Linked DNA regions of Homo sapiens: region 1 is linked to region 2. The links come from fine-mapping of genetic effects on gene expression. A gene starts in region 2. The other region holds a variant in brackets. All regions are shown on one strand. Distances are from middle to middle. Region 1 overlaps COLEC11 (collectin subfamily member 11). Region 2 holds the start of RPS7 (ribosomal protein S7).

Region 1 (9,235 bases), 31 kb before region 2:
TTGTGGCTGAGATGAGGGCGGAAGAATGTTTCCTTCATAAAGCATTTCACACCGCCTACATGACAGCAGTCTGCTCTTTCTCCCACTGGCTGAAAACTCTGAGAAGACACAGCTCCATCTCACCCAACCCTCGGTCCCCCAGAGCACCAGGAAGAAGGCGGGTGCTCCATCAGTACTCGTAAAGAATTAACACTAAGCAGGTCTGCCAGCTCTTCTCATACTGCTTAAGAAAGCTCCTGGAGTTTGTACACGGCATTCACTTATTTGCATAATAATTTCACCTCTCCCCCTACATGGGGCGGGCACTATGTCCACTCTAGAGGTGAAGACACAGCTACGAGAATCAAGTGACATGTCCAAGCTGGGATGTGCTGGCACGCCAGTGTGTCTTTACCACACCTTGCTCAGGCTTCAAAACCCCAGAGCGAGACTCACTAACCAGCATGACTACTCACCCTCGTCTCCTCTCCTCCTAAAGATAAAGCAGTAAGGACAAGTTTGTCATGATAGCTTCTGACCAACCTCCACCTGCATCCATCTGCCTGTCTCTAATCTGATTTTTAAAAACTGGTTGGCCAGGTGCAGTGGCTCATGCCTGTGATCCTGGCACTTTGGGAGGCCAAGGCAGGAGGATCATTTAAAGGCAGGAGTTTGAGACCAGCCTGGGCAACACAGCAAGACCCCATCTCTACAAAAAAATTAGCAGGGGTTGGGCATGGTGGCTCACACCTGTAATCCCAGCATTTTGGGAGCCCAAGGCGGGTGGATCACCTGAGGTCAAGAGTTTGAGACCAGCCTGGTCAACATGGTGAAACCCCGTCTCTACTAAAAATACAAAAATTAGCCAGGCGTGGTAGCGGGTGCCTATAATCTCAGCTACTCTGGAGGCTGAGGCAGGAGAATCGCTTGAACCCAGGAGGCAGAGGTTGCAGTGAGCCAAGATCACGCTATTGCACTGCAGCCTGGGCAACAAGAGCGAAACTCCATTTCAAAAAAAAAAATAGCAGGATGTGTTGCTGTGCACCTGTAGTCCCAGCCACTCAGGAAGCTGATGTGGGAGGAGCTCTTCAGCCCAGGAGTTGCAGGCTGCAGTTAGCTATAAGTGCACCACTGCACTCCAGCCTGAGTGACAGAGCAAGATCCTGTCTCTAAAAAAAAAAAAAAAAAAAAAAAAAAAAAAAAAATCAAAGAAAAATAGTTCATAGTAACAACTGGAGGCACGGAAAGAGACCCTGAAAAGCACCACACATTACACTGTGTCCCACAAACTCTCGTTACTAAAGCAGGAGAGAAAGAATCATAAGTCATTAAAAACAGCAAGACTTTCTAAAGAAGAGGATTTAACACACGTTTTCTTTATATCTCTCAGCTAATCACAAAATCCACTTACATGCCATCTCCCAAGGGCTCTGCTTAATGGACCTGTGTCTGTAGTTGTACAGGGCCAGGCGCATTTCAGCCAGTGCTGGGCAGCAGGCACCCCAAATGCCTCACGGCTGTGCCTGCAGTGTGGGGAACCCAAACCTGGAGTCAGAAACTGCTTTCCTTCCTGTGCAAAACCCAGCGTAAGCCCTCCCAGCCTGGTCCTCCTCAGCTCTGATGGGGATTGAACAAAATATGCCCTGGAAGACACCGTGCTGGTTGTCACGAGAAAAAGTATTTTAATCCCTGGTTCAGGACCAACAGCACTGAGGACCAGAGAGTACAGAGGCCTCCCATCCACGGCGGGGCTGCCCTGGTTTCTCCACGGTCCCCGTCGCCTCCGCCTTGTAGACTTGCCCTGTCCACGCATCTTAAGAACCAAGGCTGTTTTCAAGCACTGTTCACAATTTGGCAGGGTTGTTTTTTTGTTTTGTTTTGTTTTTGTTTTTTGTTTTCCAGAGATGGGGTCTTACTCTGTTGCCCTGGGTAGACTCAAACTCCTGGGCTCAAGTCATCCTCCCACCTCGGCTTCCCAAAGTGCCGGGATCACAGGCGTGACCCACTGCACCTGGCCAATTTGGCAAGGTTTGAAGTGTTCATTGTCCACTGGTCCCAGGGGTCATAAAGATGTATGTCCCTGCAGGTAATGACTCCAGAGCAGGATTTCTATACACGTCCCCACTCAACACTCCATGCATTTTGTAATGTAGACCCAGCGAGCACAATGACATTTTTCCCACATCCTTTTCATTTTCAGGATGATTGACTACATAAAGTTCTAATGACAAGTTATTTCTCTACCAGGAGAGGCTAACATTTCAACTGCTGGCTCACTTCCACCATCACCACAACGCAGCTCTCTCCTCGCTCAAAGAAACAAAACGTGGCTGACATTTACTGTTTGCTTGGCTTCCCTGCAAATCATGTACAAATCTACGAACAAAAAGCTTTTACCTAGATCGTATTTGGGGTCATTTCCAACCCAGCTAGGAAGGCGCATGTCAGTTATTTTATTGAGAACCTAAGATACTTCGACATATTTATAGCCAGTTGAGGAAGATCCGTGGACAGTGCTTGACTGTCACGCCACCTGCTTACAAGCTGAACAAACTCGTGTGCCAGCGACTTCACATCCCTGCTGGCCACAACAAGTGCCACGGCACCCCAGGGCCATGGGAAGTCAGAGAGGAGAAAGCCAGGACCTCAGCCTGCCTGGCTTGTTCTACACAAGGGGAGACGGCACAGACAGGCCGTCAGGTGTCAGAAGAGCAAACCTCCCACAGCGCATGTTATTCAGGCCCCATTACTGGTTTTATCAATGTTGTTTTAAAGAATGGCAGTAAATGATTTTAAAATTAATTTGATAGGCCAGGTATGTTGGCTCACACCTGTAATCCCAGCACTTTGGGAAGCCAAAGCGGGTGGATTACGTGAGGTCAGGAGTTCGAGACCAGCCTGGATAACATGGTGAAACCCCGTCTCTACTAAAAATACAAAAATTAGCCGGGCGTTGATGGTGCGCGCCTATAGTCCCAGCTACTTGGGAGGCTGAGGCAGGAGAATCACTTGAACCTGAGAGGCGGAGGCTGCAGTGAGCCAAGGTCGCACCATTGCACTCCAGCCTGGGCAACAAGAGAGAAACTCCATCTCAAAAAAAAAAAAAAAGCAAAAAAAAAATTCATTTGATAAAGCCTATAAGAAGAACTATGACCTTTCATATTTCTGGGAAACACATTTGTTAATACAGATAAATGTTTTCTCACCTACAGCCATTTTTTTAACCATTAAAAAAAGACTTTTTTCCCATTAAAAGGAGTTGTCATTCTCTCTAAATGTAAAGACAATATATTATTCCCTCTAAATGTAAAGATAATATATTATTATTATCTGAAATGGCCTGGAATGGCAAATAAATGTCATCTCAAGCACCACCAGCAGTCAGCGGCAGCCTGACTCGTGTGCTCAGGAAGATTCTCCAGCCAAATGTGGAGTTGGCAGAGGTTTCAGGATCCAAAACACAGGGGGTTGTGGGGGTTGGGGGGGCGGCGCGTGCTGTGTTTCTCAGACCAGATGCCACCCCGTGTCCGGGGCCGAACGGCGGGACTGTGAGGAGACAGGCCGCGGCTTCTTCATCCCAGCCCTGAGCCTGCCTGGTGGATTCTCAACGGACGCTTGTCTAATGAATGGTGACTGCGTGTGTGTCTGTTTCCTTAGAAGCTGGCACTGTGCCGCACGCTGCCTCTCCTCTTTGACCTCCAGCGACCCTGGGGGGCTACGGCACATGCTGGGGCCGGCAGGGATGAAGTCTGCTGGCACACACCATTTTCTCCATTGAGTAACCCAATTCCTGACATGCTGGGTATCCTGAATCCTTCTAAACCGCTCCTTGCCCCTGGTGCTCGCCTCTCGCTTGCGGACTCGCGGGGCACGTGCTGGACGGACACCTGATCTGCTCCCTGGTCGGGCTCGCTGCCTGCACAGGGTTAGTGCTTTGTAAGTCACTGTCCCAGAGCAAGGAGCAGGGGCTGGGTCCCCGGTCACTGTGTGCCCACTCCTGGTGCCACCACTGCATCCCCACAGAGCCCCAAGCTGGCATCGCCTCCCCAACCTCACGGACCAGGAGGCCGAGGCTTGGGAGGACAGGTGACCCGTCACGCAGGACGGCTGACCCACAGCACCCTCAGACCTGCCCTACTTCCCAGCCTGCAAAGGTTGAGAAGGGACCCTACCCATGTGGGAAATGACAGCACATCCAGGGGACCCAGGACGTGGACAGCTGGGAAGGACCCTCCCAACAGCACCTGGGAAAGGCGGCGCCCAGAAAGGACCCTGGAGCCCACCCCACGGCCCCCACCAGTGCAGGCTACTGACCTGGCAGGGCGCAGGGAAGACAACCGTAGGGACTCGGAGGCACCCACCACATTGGGCAGGGACGTGACCTCCACAGCCAAAAGTCCAGCTCTCCACAGCCACCGTTTCCAACCTAAAGCTGAAGGTTCCACTCACAAACCCACACACGCTACCACAAAGTCAGGGCCAAAGCCACTTTCACCAAAACTTCTGAGAGAGCCGTAGGCATCCAACAGTTTAAGTTGCTTCCAACATAATTAAACATTTTCTAAAGCAGGTACATTTATCACAATTAAAAGCACAAAGGCCACTGGGCTTGTCTGGGCTGCAGGACAGTCCACTTGGTTTCCAACAGCAGGGCTAACACAGCCGGAAAAAAGCCCCCAGCCAGAGCTGCACAGCCTGGCAGGGTGGCCCCGAGCTGTCCGGACCCTGTGCCCCGGGAGAGGGCTGACCTTTTCATTTTGTACAACACGGGCTGAGCAGGGTTTGTCTTTCGTGGTGACTGTTTTGATCATGGGTTTGAATCTACTTTTCTCTAATGTTTCAATAAAAAGAGCCGCAGACGCTCCACA[G/A]GAGAAGCTGAAGGCCCAAGCGGACCGCGGATGAGGAGGGGGCGGACCGGATTCAGGTTGCAAAAGGTCAATGTGCCCCTCCCCCTCCTCAGGACCCACGTGACTCCCCTCCCCTCCTCAGCACCCACGTGACTCCCCTCCCCCTCATCAACCACGTGACTCCCCTCCCCCGCCTCCTCAGCACCCACGTGGCCGCCCCTCCCCCTCCTCAGCACCCACGTGACTCCCCTCCCCTCCTCGGCACCCACGTGACTCCCCTCCCCTCCTCGGCACCCACGTGACTCCCCTCCCCCTCCTCGGCACCCACGTGACTCCCCCGCCCCCTCCTCGGCACCCACGTGACTCCCCCGCCCCCTCCTCGGCACCCACGTGACTCCCCCGCCCCCTCCTCGGCACCCACGTGACTCCCCTCAGCGGCGGCCTGGACTCTGCTGCGGCCGGTGCAGCCCCGGCCCTGCCACCCGACACTGGCACACACTCTGCTGTCCCTTCTTGGGTTCTGTAATTTTGAACAAGGGGCCCACATTTTCATTTCACACCGGGCTCCCCCAGGCTTGGGGACCTGTTGCCTCTGCTTTGTAGAAGCTGGTCATTTTCTTACTTGAAGATGCTGCTCTGGAGGCTTCAGATACCGCAGCCTCAGGGACTTTCTCACCCATGCCTCACCTGCAGAACTATCTCTATCCGGGAGCAGATTACAGACAAAGCAACAAGAAAAAAAAAAGTTCCTGTCTTTTTTTTTTCCCCTAACCACTAGACCACCAGGGATTTTTTAATTTTTAAAATAAAATATTAAGAGCTCTCAGGAAGCAATGTAGAAGCACACTTTGGGAACTTAACACAAGTTGCAAATTTTCTCTGACCCTCAAATTTCCTTATCTGTAAAATGGTCCACATGAGATCATCTCATGGGGAGGATCACACGAGGCCATGTGTGCAGGGTCTGACGGAAAGCCAGGTGCCTTCCAGCAAGGTCCCCCCGGAGAGGGCTGAGTTGCAAATAAATTGCCATCTTCAGAATTAGGAATTCCATGGCCGAAGACAGTTTAGACATCATGTCACCCAACCCTTGATTTCCAGATGGGGAAACTGAGACCCAATGGGGTAAGCAGATTTGCTGGGGCTTTGTGCTTTTCCGTGGAACTGCGCAGTTGCATGGGAGTCTCTCAGCTGGCCCGGAGGCCACTGCCCAGCAGCCCAGAGTCCAGGGAGCGGTTACCTTTGAGGCCAGGGACGAGGATCTGCACAGAGCAGGCGTCATCGCCAGCCGGCTGAGGATGTCCAGATGGCAGCAGTGACAGGAAGGCCAGGCTGATTAGAACGCCCACCAGGGCCAGATTCCCCCTCATCCTGAGCGCAGGCAGGACACCAACTCCTACACAGAGGAAGGAATAAACAGTGATGGGAACTGCAACAGCCGGGCAGCCAGTGACAGTGAGCAGGCCTCGGAGGCAAGGGGTGTAGCCCTCCTGGTGCCTGGAAGGGCTGTCTGGGCCCCCATGGCGGGTGCTCCTCACTCACTCAAGCACCAATCATGAGCCTCCACTGAGAAGCTTCCACAGCAGCCCCAGGGTCAGCACCAGGCACCAAGTGCATGCCAGCCCTGGTCAGTGAGCCTTGATTGAAGGCCTACGGCTCGCCCACCCCAAGGAGTTCGATCTGATCTCTGGGACAAACGATTCCTACACAGAGTGGAGTAGGGGTCTCCACACAGCATAGCCAGCCACAGACATGGAGCCTCTGCAGAGCTGGGCACAGCGGAGGGAGGCTGAGATACAGCTAAAGGAAACAGCCAAGGCGCCTGAGGAGCCCCAAGCTTAGCGGCTCCATTCACAGACAAGGAATCCACGCCCCCACATCTCCTTAGGTGGCAGGAGACAGGCACCTGGCCTTCCTCGGTGAGATCAGTAAGGAGAGAGGAGCCCCGGCCTTAGGAACCCAGGGGCCTGGGGAGGTGGGGGCCGAGCCCATAGGAAGAGGGGTGTCATGGACATCTGACCATCCCAGGAGGGGCGGGTACGTGCTGACCTCTTTGTTTCTTCATCGTGAAGGGCGTTACAACTTGGAAAACAAGACCAGGCGCAGTGGCTCACACCTGTAATTCCAGCACTTTGGGAGGCTGAGGTGGGCAGATCACCTAAAGTCGGGAGTTCGAGACCAGTCTGGACAACATGGTGAAACCGCATGTCTTCTAAAAATACAAAAATTAGCTGGGTGTGGTGGCGGGCACCTCTAATCCCAGCTACTTGGGAGGCTGAGGCAGGAGAACTGCTTGAACCCAGGAGGCGGAGGTTGCAGTGACCTGAGATCACGCCACTACACTCCAGCCTGCATGACAGCGAGACTCCGTCCCAAAAAAAAATAAAATATAATAAATAAATAAAACTCGGAAAACAAAGAGGGCAATGGAAACTACTCAACTTGAAGGGAGAGGCCCGGGAAACAGAGGGAAAGGGACAGGAGGGGAGAGAGGGACAGGCCAGAAGGGCAGAGTGCGGACAGCAGCCCTGGAGCACAGCTGATAAAGAGCCGTGGCGAGCTGGGACTGGGGCTCCGCAGAGCATGGAAGCCACAGGAGCATCTGTCCATCCCAAAGGCCATGCTTCCGGATACTTCCTGGCAGCCTTTCGTTTGGTTAATCATTCGTTCAGAAACATTTGTGGATGCCGACCAAATGTCAGGCACAGCTCTAGGCACCAGGAGTAGAGCAAGAACATTTATGTTTTTATTCCTATTGGAAGAGACAGACAGACAGACAGACAGAGACAGACAGAGGCAGGGGTAAGCGCCGTGGGGAAGAGTGAGGCAGAGTCCAGTGGCCGGGACACATGCTGCTGTTCAGGATGGTTGCCAGGGAAGCCTCGCTGACAGGTGGGTGAGGGCGGCTCAGAGAAAGCCTTGAGGCAGTGCATGCCGGACAGTGCGGGGAGAGGTGGGCTGGCCTGGTGGGCACAGAGGACAGGAGACAGGAGCCGGCGCCCAGCAGCTTTGGGGGTTGCTCTGTATGAGACAGAGGGTCTGGATCAGCGAGCGGCTTTACAAAAGGGTCTCCCTGCTCTTGAGACGGGACTTAGGGGAACAGCAACGGAAGCAAGGAGACCAAGCCAGGGTGACCACAACAGCACAGCGGGCGAGGATGGCAGCTGGACCCCACGTGTGGGTGGAGGTGATGACAGAGGTATGGGATGCAGTCTGGAAGCAAAGCTGACAGGTTTTGCTGATCAGTTATGTGGGAAATGACAGAGAGAAATCAAAGATTAAAGCTTTTGTTCTGAGCAGCCAGGTGAACAGTGCAGCCAGCTGCTGAGAAACAGAACTGAGGAGGTGAAGTGAAGTCAGGGGCTCGGGTTCAACTTTCCGAGTCTGAGACACTATAGACTCCTATGTGACCCAGTGGGTGGAGCAATGGTTCGGTTTGCAAGGCTTGGGGGTCAGGGTACCCTCCATTTTCTCTCCCACAATTCCAAGCCAGCTGGCCCTCTCAGGTCCAAAATGAAGGTCACCTTAGCTGCTAGAGAAAGGCCATCTGTGGTGGGGGGCTTCCCACATCAACAGCCCCGTGAGAGCCCTGCTACAAAAGCCAGGGGAGGGTGGTCCGGACAGATCCCGAAAGCCAGGGCCCCATGGAGTCTACAGAGACCCCGCCTCTGGCTGGCGAGAGCCCACCTTTGCCACCTGATGTCCTGCTGCACGAGGAGTTCTCCCAGAAATGTGTGGAGGTCAAGATGCCCAAGATAGCCCTGCAGCTCGAAGGGAAGTCATTTGAAATCCTTCTCCCAAATCTGAAAAAAATCGCCTCCAATGGTCACAGACAAAAAGATGACGTGGAGACGGCTAGGGTTACTGCCATGAACATTCCATGTTAAATGTCCGTTTCCACTGAGGCAAGGGTTGATGAAGGGGCGGGGCGGGAAGGGAGAGAGGATTAGAGTTAGGGCGGAGCCAGGGCTTGGGCACGCGCGTGGGAGAGCTTCACTTGCCGAAGATGACAGAACTTAAATCCTACCTCTGTGAAAACCTACAGACCTTAAAGCTGAAGCCGTCTCTCATCCCGGATGTCCAAGAATGGCTCGGGGGAAAAAAGGTACTATAAAGCACAAAGTCACAGTGGCTCACGCCTGTAATCCCAGCACTTTGGAAGGCCAAGGCCAGCAGATTGCTTGAGTCCAGGAGTTTGAGATCAGCCTGGGCAACATGGCTAAACCCCATCTCTACAAAAAAGCAGCCAGGTGTAGTGTCACGCACCTGTAGTCCCAGCTACTGGAGAGGCTGAAGTGGGAGCATCACCTGAGCCTGGGAAGTTGAGGCTGCAGTGAGCGGTGATCACACCACTGCACTCCAACCCGGGCAGTCAGAGTGAGACCCTGTCTCAAAAAAAATAATAATAA
Region 2 (10,514 bases):
TCTTTAAGTCAAAATGAAAATGCAAATCCCAGGTTCCTGAAGTCAAATTAACACTCATTTTCAAATAAGCTTGTTATATTTCACGTACCAAACTAAAGCCTTTGCCTACCTAGAATAGGGTAATAGCTTACTGATTTATTTCAAAAGCTCAGTCAATTTTAAATGTTACTCTGGGATAAACTACAAACTCACCAAGGCAATGAGTGACCATCTCTAGGGAATGTGAGATTAGAGGACTTTTATACATCTTTATTTTCACTTGTATTATTTCTCAACTAAATCACTACAATAACCTTTAACACTCTTGCTCATCTCCAAAACCACCCCCTTCCAATGTCAAGATAATCTTTCTAAAGCACGGATATGATCACATCATTTACTTAGCATCACAGAACTGCCAGTGGAATCTTGCTCCTCGTCTGAATATCACTACCAAGTTCAAAACCTACCTACCTGCCACCTAACAAATGAGAAGTTTCAATTAATTGCAAGCTTTTGGGGCAGCTACCATGTACCATGAGACATCAGGAGTAAGTCAAGAGACGGTTCTTTGTTTCAGCATTTAGGGAGCTGCCTTACATATGGTTATCTGTCTACGTCTCACCCCATAGTAGCTAACAATAACACTATAGTCTACTCATTTGGATTTCCTATCTGGCAGCGCCCATATACACAGTTAACATCTTCTGGTGGCTCTCAATTTTACTGCCAACATCTTAATATGTCACAGCCACAAAGGGCAAAAGCCTGAACAAAGTCCATTTCCCAAAACCCTCATCACCTTTCAGAAAGCAAATCAAGACAAACGGATTATTCATTGCGACTCATTAATTAAGCATATTCTTACAATACTAGGAAAGCACCCAAATACGGAAATTAGATTCCAATGTCATCTACAATCTTTTAAAATGGGGAGCAATGGCACCATAACTCAATCATCACAAACCACAGGGACTGGAGCGCTTTAGAGGAAAAACCCTGCTATACCCAAAAACTATCAATTTCAGCATTTAACCTGAGTTAGATAAAGATAGCTCTACTGAATAGGGAAAATAAATCTGAAAGCAGGAAGCCGGATTGGAAAAGTGGTAGAATCACTATGACCTACCAGCTAGGCTTAGTGTGAAGGCTTTCAATGTACAGACTAGGTCCCACTAGAAACACTGAAGCCATTGTCTGAGAAAATTTGGAAAACAGAGGTTTGTACTGAGGGAAACTAAAGCTATGGATTTGAGGGACAGTCCTCTGGGACTGTTCTTATACTCATTTCCTAACTGAGGTTCTCAGAACTGAGTTTCCAAAACCCTCTTTAAGTGTCATGATTTAGGGGAAAAAAATCCTAAATTCTTATGCCACTCTGCCTTTAAAAGTTTTTCAAAGTACTAAGCCATAGAATTCAAGTTCTAGAAAAGCTGGCACCTACCTTTCCACATACCACAGCTCGACACAATAACACATTACCAGACTCCCAACACTGTGTTCTAGTGGTTTTCAGAACAAGACCGAGTTAAAAAAAAAACATTCTTAGCACTACTAGTACTAGCTGCAATCAGCAAATTATCCCAGCCTTGGATCAGTTTCCTCATCCACTGAGAGTAACAATACAAATTAAACATGTTAGAGGGCACAGGCAACACTAGGATTTTTTTTTTCTTCAACTCATCCTTAGGGAAGAGTCCACAGGGATTTAATAGTTCACATTTGTAAAACAACATACTAATCAGAGACTAACAAAATACCAAAAGATCTAGTTCAAGAAGACAACTACCAATATTTGAGTTTATGCCAGATAACCTGTAAGTCAATCAAGTTCATAAATCATTTTCCATCAGCATCTTCAACTGCAGTGATATTTTAACCTGTGATGTTATCACCAAAATCCACCTACATTTTTTTACCTCCAATCCACAGCAAAAATAAAAATCAAAGATAAATCCAAGCCCATGTCAACTGTGTCTAGCATGCTATATCACAGAATTAAAGTAATGATTTCCTTCTCATCATTCCTATCCTGTGCACAAATAATCGGAGGAAATCATCTCATCTTGTGACAGCACTGACCTAGTAGGCAAACAATGGCTACATGAATACATGTATGTTTTACATCTAGAATTCTAAAACGTATCATGTGCAACTATACAGGAAACCAAATGCTGCTACTCAAAAATTCCCACTTGAACATCTGTTTTCATAAACTACAACTTAAACAAATTAAGAGTTGTTAATAAGAGGGGTACACACATTTCTGAAACTACTAAAATACTCACCTCCTGGGACGCTTTTGCTTATTTTTTGTACGGCTTTTTCGAGTTGGCTTAGGCAGAATTCTCCTCTGTAAGGTAAAAATTATCATGTAACAAAATGAAAAAAGACTTTAAATTGACAAAAAGCTGTAACTGCCATACTGCTTTAAAAGCAAGAAGAATGGCAGGGTAAGTTCAAAGTTCGAGAAGGCTAAACAACTTAGACGAACAATTGACTGAGCAAACCCTTCTATGGAGTTACTTCCTGATTCTTGAATAAATCATTCAGAATCCACAGCCTCTACTAATACGCCAGTGGACAAAATCTCCCAGATACGCCTTTCCCCATGCCTATGACCCAGAATACTACTTTTATTCCAGATCAATCCTGGCACTTCATTCCCCATAGACTTCAGTTTGCACCAATCCCCCATCCGAACTGTAACAGGTTTCTTCTTTTTTTGAGATGGAGTCTCGCTCTGTCGCCCAGGCTGAAGTTCAGTGGCGGGATCTCGGCTCACTGCAAGCTCCACCTCCCGGGTTCACGCGATTCTCCTGCCTCAGCCTCCCGAGTAGCTGGGACTACAGGCGCCCACCACCACGCCCAGCTAATTTTTTGTATTTTTTAGTACAGACGGGGTTTCACCGTGTCAGCCAGGATGGTCTCGATCTCCTGACCTCGTGATCCGCCTGCCTCAGCCTCCCAAAGTGCTGGGATTACAGGAGTGAGCCACAGGGCCCGGCCTGTAACAGGTTTCTTAGTTTGATCATCTATGTAAGCAACCCACTAGACTTGTGGAAATTTAAATATGGGAAATCATTTTCATAACTCAAAACACAGCAGTCTGTCACTTTACAGACTTCTTGTTTCGACTCTTAATTAAAGAACGTACTTTATCTTTCTTTTTAAAACTTATTTTTTCTATTTTTTGTAGACAGGGTCTTACCATGTTGCCCAGGCTGGTCTCTACAGTGATCCACCCGCCTCCACCTCCCCGTGCTGGGATTACAGGCCTAAGCCACGGCGCTCTGCCTGTACTTTATCTTTCTACCCAATTGGATTCATAAAAGGATTGTTTTCATGACTCCAACTACCAATGCAGTCTAAATACAAGCAATTTTAGCAAAATTCACAAACAGAAACGTGCTGCAACAGTAGAACAGATACCTGAGCGATAAAGACGACATGCTTCCCACTGAACTTTTTCTCCAATTCGCGTACTAGCCGGACTTGGATTTTCTGGAAAGATTTCAGTTGAGGAACGGGAACAAAGATTATGATAGCTTTCCGACCACCACCAACTTCAATTTCCTAAAGAAAAAAACAAAAATCCACTGTGTTAACTGCTTCAGAAAGTAAACGTTGTGGTCAAATTAGAGGATAAGAAGACCTTATCACTAACACCGTAGCTGCACTACAAACTAATACTAGTTTTGAGTTAATCATAAATGCATCCTTCGGAAATGTTCTCATCTCTCTCCAACCTTCACATTTCCTTATTCCAGGAAGGGAGACTGTTCAGGCCAGGAGGCCAATCACTACCACTTCTGCACCCCCACTTGCGGCAACTCCGGGCTAAGGGTAGAGAGAATCTCATCCTGAGCTCCCCACAGCTCTTTGCCGTATCTATAACTAAGTAAGGGCAAATAAGGTCCGAAATGGGCCCAGGCCCTCCCTACTCCACGTTTCTCCACCGCCCGCATGTGGACAGCTTAAGCCGCAGGGTACCTGCAACCCCACTCCCCGCACCTGGGCGGTATCACTCCCAAACAACACGGCCGAACCTGAGTTCAGGTTAGGCGGCCAGGCGGCAAGTCATCATCAACCGTAACCCAGGTCCAACCCTCTCAGGCACTGCGCGGGGAGACGCGCCGCAACCTCCCTCCCAGCCGAGGGAGCGCCAGCTTACCTTAGCTGCCGTAATATTCAGCTCCCTGAGCTGAGCCTTGAGGTCCGAGTTCATCTCCAGCTCCAGAAGAGCCTAAGAAGCAACGAACAGCAGGACCGACCCTGAGCGCGCGTCCGAGCACCCCGGGCCCAACACACGCGCGGCCGCCTCCCCTCCCGGGCGGGGCGCCTCCCCCCACCCCAGACCCCAGGGAAACCCTCTCACCTGGGAGATGCCGGACTCGAACTCGTCCGGCTTCTCGCCATTGGGCTTCACGATCTTGGCGCTCGAACTGAACATGGCTTTCTCCTGGGAGAACTGAAGGCACAGCGGTCAGCGTTACGCGGCCCGGGCTGCAGGCGCCGCTGGCTCGCCCTCCCGCCCGCACCCCCCGGCCAGGCCCCGCTCGCCCCGCAGAAGCCATCGGAAAGCACAGGGCGGGTAATCGGCTGTATCCCCACCCTGTGAGCAAGGCTCGCCCCTCCAGGGCCTGACTCCAAAAGGCGTTTTCCTCAACCCAAGAAGAAAAGTTCTGTCGGAGAGCAGGCCGCCAACCTACCTTGCCGAGCGCCGGCTTAGGAAGAGACCCAAATCTCGCGAGAGCACGTCAAAATCCGGCGTCCGAAGGCAAGAGGCGGAAACAGCGCGAGGAGGAGGGCGGAAACCGGAACATCACTGAGAAGCGGTAGGAGGCTAGAGAGTCCCAGGAAGCGGCTCTGGGGACGAGTGTCTTGGTAACGCTTTTCCGCCCTAGGATTCGTACTTTGGTGCCGTTTCCGAGCGTTCCGGTACCGGCTCCCAAGGTTCCCGTCTTCAGTGCAGGTTGCAGGCGGGAACCGGCCTCGTCCCAGCCCTGGGCCTGGGAGAGAGAAGGAGGCCGAAGAAAACCAACTTCGGCAACCTCCGGAGACAGGACGTTTAAAAAAGGCTAACTTGGCTGGGCGCTGAGGCTCACGCCTGTAATCCCAGCACTTTGGGAGGCCGAGGCAGGAGGATCACTTGAGCTCAGGAACCAGCCTGGGCAACATGGCGAGACCCCATGTCTACAAAAAAAAAAAAAAAAAAATTAGCCAGTCATGGTGGTGCGCGCCTGCAGTCCCAGCTACCCCGGAGGCCGACGCGGGAGGATCGCTGGAGCCGAAAGGTCGAGGCTGCCGTGAGCCGAGGTTGCACCACTGCACTCCAGCCTGGGCGACAGCGCAAGACCCTGTCTAAAAATAAATTTAAAAAAAATTGCGAGGCCTTCATTCTATGCTAGTACTGTACTAGGTGCTAATTATTAAGTAAAACCGACTGAACTCTTGCCCTCATGGAGCTTACAGTTCAGTGGAGAAGACATTACCTAAAGCAGTATGACTAAATATATAATGACATATTGTAATAACTTACATAACAGTACAATGAGAGGGTGGGGAGGGATTATTTATGCTTTAAGAAGTCGGGAATCCTGGAACGGAATGACATTAGACTGAGACACGGAAGAGCCGCAGGATCTATTGCTGGGGAAGAGCATTCCAGACAGGGAGGAACTCGTGCCGAATGATCCCGCTGTGGACAGGGAATTTAATCTGAGCTTCGGTTTCCTCTTCTGTCAAATGTCATGCAAGAGTTACTTTCAGCCGTGGTCCAGGCACTGTGAAAAATGCAGAAGCCACACTAGGTGCCCTCTCTCAGGATTCCCAACCACCTTTACCAAGCAGAGATGGTATTCATCCCACATTTTTAATGCTAGATATGCTCCCGCCCGGTGCTTCTCTAATAATGTTTTTTAAAAGGTAAGTGACTGTCTCCTTGGAAAATTAAGGATAACTTGAAGTTTCTTCCAGATAGAAAGTAAACTACAGCTGCGTCTACAATCTCATCTGGGCAGTCGTTCTGAGCCCTTTTGTCGAACTAGGTCCATTTCCTTACTCCACATGCACTTTTCGACCTGGCTTTTATCTCTGCTGCTCTATAAAAGTAGTAATCTAAAAGTTCATCCAGTAAAGCTTTTTCTCTGTGAACCTATCACTTGAGAACAAAAAAAATTAAAGTTATTTCTGGTTTCCAGTCCTTTGTTGAATAGGAGTGGTGAGCAAGGACATCCGTGCCTTGTTCTCCATCTTAGGGGAAAACCATTCAGTCTTTCACCATTAAGTATAATATTAGCTCTAGGATTTTGCAGGTATTTTTAATCAAATTCAGGAAGTTCCCTCTGTTTCTATTTCTGAGAGGTTTTTTTAAAATCATGGGCCGGGCACGGTGGCTCACGCCTGTAATCCCAGCACTTTGGGAGGCCGAGGCGGGTGGATCACGAGGTCAGGAGATCGAGACCATCCTGGCTAACACGGTGAAACCCCGTCTCTACTAAAAATACAAAAAATTAGCTGGGCGAGGTGGCGGGCGCCTGTAGTCCCAGCTACTCGGGAGGCTGAGGCAGGAGAATGGCGTGAACCGCCGGGGGCGGAGCCTGCAGTGAGCCGAGATCGAGCCATTGCACTCCAGCCTGGGTGACAGCGAGACTCCATCTCAAAAAAAATATATAAATAAAAAATAAAATAAAATCATGAATGGATGTTGGAGTATGTCAAATGCATTGTTTCTATGAACTAATATGATTATGTGAGTTTTTCTTTTTAGCTGTTAATGTGCTGTTAATATACATAAATGCTTTTCCTTTCTAACTCTTTAGCTTTGAGCCTCATGAGATCCTAAGAAATGTGATTTTTAAAACCTAGAACCTGATAGAAGTTGATAGAGGTTGCACATGTATTTTTAATAGGTAGTTTCAGGATCATAATCACAACTTAGAGGGTCATTCTACTAATTTTATGTTAGGAAATGCCTACTAATCATTACATTAGATTGTTTTCCTGGTTTTACTAGTACTAGCTTCTTTATTATTTAACCATACAATAAGTGAGTCGATAATACCAACATGATTGACAATGAACAGAAATATCATCTATGCAATCCACTTACTTTTAGAACACTTTGTTAACTCTTTTATGTATCATTATGGACATGGGACATTTCAGATTTGCTGTACATCAATCAGTCTCAGCCAATATTCTCCTTTGATCCTCAAATTGTCTCAGTTGTGACCAGGAGGGGCCCCTCTTAGATAAGCAGCCGAGTCTTGTCATTTCTATGAATGTCTGAACATCTTGTTTTCTGGCACAAGATATTCCAGGCTCCTCTTGTAATTTTCTGCCTGAGACATAGAATGAGCCTTTTCTCCTAGAAGTGCTGATACTTTTGTTTTTGTTTTTCTGGAAAAATAGTACTGGAGACCAGAATTTTGGCAGCAGGAGGCATCGTGGGGCTCCTCATAAGCCGTTTCAGCGGACAGAACTTAGAAAGATGGCATTTAAAATAATTTTTTCATAAAAGATACAAGTTCACATTGACATTCTCAATCCACTTCTAACAGAACAATTCCTTCTGAAATCCTCGATTCTATCATAGCATCTCCTTTTCTCCTGTAATAAAAACCTTGCTTCCTAAACACAAAAATACAATTACTTGCTTTATCTGACACTATGAGAAAATACATTCAAAATAACAATGCAGGTGGGCCGCAGTGGCTCACACCTGTAATCCCAGCACTTTGGGATAATCCACCCAGGGTGAGTGGATCACTTGAGGTCAGGAGATAAGCCTGGCCAACACAGGGAAACCCTGTCTCTACTAAAAATACAAAAATTAGCCAGGTGTGGTGCCACCCGCCTGTAATCCCAGCTACTCGGGAAGCTGAGGCAGGAGAATCGCTTGAACCTGGGTGACATGAACTCCTGACCTCATGTGATCTGCCCACCCTGGCATCCCGAAGTGCTGGGATTACAGGTGTGAGCCACCATGCTCAGCCCTTGTTGACTTTTGAATATGTGAAACACTCTGCTTCTGAAAGTCAAAGCCATCTAAGGAGGTCACTCCCTTGAGAAGGCCACACTCCACCGGCCCCTGCCTTCCCTCCTGCACCCAACCTTGCTTTCTGGTTCATGCTTCCTGGGTTTCTTTTTGCTTGAATGTATATTTTCTTACCTCTCCTTCATTCTTACACAAAAGCAGGATTTGATTTTTGCATTTTGTGTTCGCCTAAACATATTTCCTGGAAATCCCTCCATGTCAGTTCAGGAGACCTCCCTCATGCTTTTTCACCACGGCGTCGCTCTCCGCTGGGCTGTCAGACCACTTTCACCCAGCCCGTGTTCTGTGGAGACACTTGGACTGCATCCGAGTCATACTCAACATTTTGAAATTTTAAACAATGCCCCACAAATAAACTTAGGCATATGCGTTAGGATGCTTTTGGAGCAGCCCCTTTGGGATAAATTTCTAGAAGTGGGATCTCAGCCTCAAAAGGTAAAGGCATAAGTAATTTTGTTACGCATTGCCACCTTCCCTTAGAAAAGCGCTGTGCGTCATATGGGAATTCTTGTTTTCCCACAGCATTCCCAACAGAATGTGTCATCATACTTTTTAATTTGTTTCTATCTGACAGGTGAAAAATGAGACCGCAATGTAATTTAATTTGCATTCTCTAATTCAGAGTGAAGTTGGCATCCTTCCATGGGTTTCATACGTTCAAGGACCATTTTAAAGCGTTTTATACGTTTTTGTGTGATTGTTTTCTGCTCATATTTTAACCATTTTTCTTTTTTCTTTTCTTTTTCTTTTTTTTTTTTTTAGGTTGAGAGCAGAATTTTAATAGGCAAAAGAAAGAGAAGAGCTCTCTGCTGCAGACAGGAGTCCTGGAGAAATGGGTTGCCCTCTTTTTTCTTTTTCTTTTTTTGAGACAGTCTCTCACTGTCACCCAGGCTGGAATTCAGTGGCGCATTCGTACCTCGCTGCAGCCTCAACCTCCTAGGCTCAATCGATCCTCCCACCTCAGCCTCCCGAGTAGCTGGGACTATAGATATTTAACCATTTTTCTATTGAGATTTGGTCTTCTCCACCACCCACCACAGATTTTTGTAATTAGAGGTCATTTTTCCAAACAAATGATTCTTAAGGTCCTGCTGTCTCTGAATATTATTTTTATAGAACAAGCATAAGTATAATTGGATCAATCATCTAACCTTTCAGATCCTCAACTTAGTCTTCCATTAATGAGAGGATTAAATCCATTAGTTAAATGTTCTCTAAGAATCAGTGTGTCTCCAACTTCAGTGTACAAACAGCGGGTCACCCAGGGATCGCAGTGGGACGCAGACGCTGATTCCGCAGTTGTGGACTTGGTGGAGGTGGGCGCTGTCTCAGTCCATCTGGGCCGCTATACAGAGTGCCACAGACAGAGTGGCTTACGGACAACAGATGCTCATTTCTCACTCTCTGGAGACTGGAAGCCCAAGATCAAGGTGGCAGAAAATGCCGTGTCTGAAGAGGAACTGTTTCCTTGTTCACAGCCTCTTCTCACTGTGTCCTTGCAGAAGGGCTGAGGGAGCTCTCCAGGGGCCTCCTTCATAAGGGCACTCATGCCATCGTGGGACTCCACTCTCACGACCTCATCACCACCCAAAGACCATCACTTTGGGGGTTAGGATTTAACATGTGCACTTTGGGGGGACACACACATTCAGTCCACAGCAGCTCCAATATGTTGCATTTCTAATTAGCTCACAGGCAATGCTGATGATACTGGTCCAGGGACCACACTTCGAGTAGCAACAAACCAGATAGCCACAAAGAGGAATTAATAGATGTAGCATTAAGGAAGAAAGATTCCTTCCAGTGCCAAGGAAACTCATCACAGTACCTCCAATACCGTGTCATCCTGGAGGGACCACAAGACCCTGGATAGTTGGCCCAGGACAGAATACTGCTGGGGGTTTGGAGGGTGGCAGTTAAAAAGCCAAGATCTGTTTACCTGTTAAAATATATATTCTTGCCCTCTCCCTCTCCCTCTCCCTCTCCCTCTCCCCACGGTCTCCCTCTCCCTCTCTTTCCATGGTCTCCCTCTGATGCCTAGCCGAAGCTGGACTGTACTGCTGCCATCTCGGCTCACTGCAACCCCCCTGCCTGATTCTCCTGCCTCAGCCTGCCGAGCGCCTGCGATTGCAGGCACGCACCGCCACGCCTGACTGGTTTTTGTATTTTTTTGGTGGAGACGGGGTTTCGCTCTGTTGGCCGGGCTGGTCTCCAGCTCCTAGCCGCGAGTGATCCGCCAGCCTCGGCCTCCCGAGGTGCCGGGATTGCAGACGGAGTCTCGTTCACTCAGTGCTCAATGGTGCCCAGGCTGGAGTGCAGTGGCGTGATCTCGGCTCGCTACAACCACCTCCCAGCCGCCTGCCTTGGCCTCCCAAAGAGCCGAGATTGCAGCCTCTGCCCGGCCACCACCCCGTCTGGGAAGTGAGGAGCGTCTCTGCTTGGCCGCCCATCGTCTGCGATGTGAGGAGCCCCT

What was found.
Region 1: its variant is fine-mapped to the expression of RPS7 in subcutaneous fat (GTEx, PIP 0.98).

What each region holds. Positions count from the first base shown.
Region 1 is chr2:3,601,302-3,610,536 of GRCh38, reverse strand. It overlaps COLEC11 (collectin subfamily member 11), which reads right to left. Exons shown (of 7, transcript NM_024027.5): 2 at 6,067-6,222. The coding sequence starts at 6,196. Among named protein-coding and RNA genes, the nearest start is that of COLEC11, 11 kb to the right of the region's middle. The variant G/A (reference allele first, on the strand shown) is at 4,848.
Region 2 is chr2:3,569,528-3,580,041 of GRCh38, reverse strand. It overlaps RPS7 (ribosomal protein S7), which reads right to left and starts at 4,782. Exons shown (of 7, transcript NM_001011.4): 1 at 4,692-4,782; 2 at 4,358-4,450; 3 at 4,154-4,225; 4 at 3,412-3,555; 5 at 2,268-2,332. The coding sequence starts at 4,432. LOC124907726 (a long non-coding RNA gene) reads left to right here and starts at 4,933. Exons shown (of 2, transcript XR_007086196.1): 1 at 4,933-5,907; 2 at 8,804-10,514. RefSeq lists a silencer at 4,236-4,525 and enhancers at 4,077-4,653, 4,654-5,229, 9,939-10,514.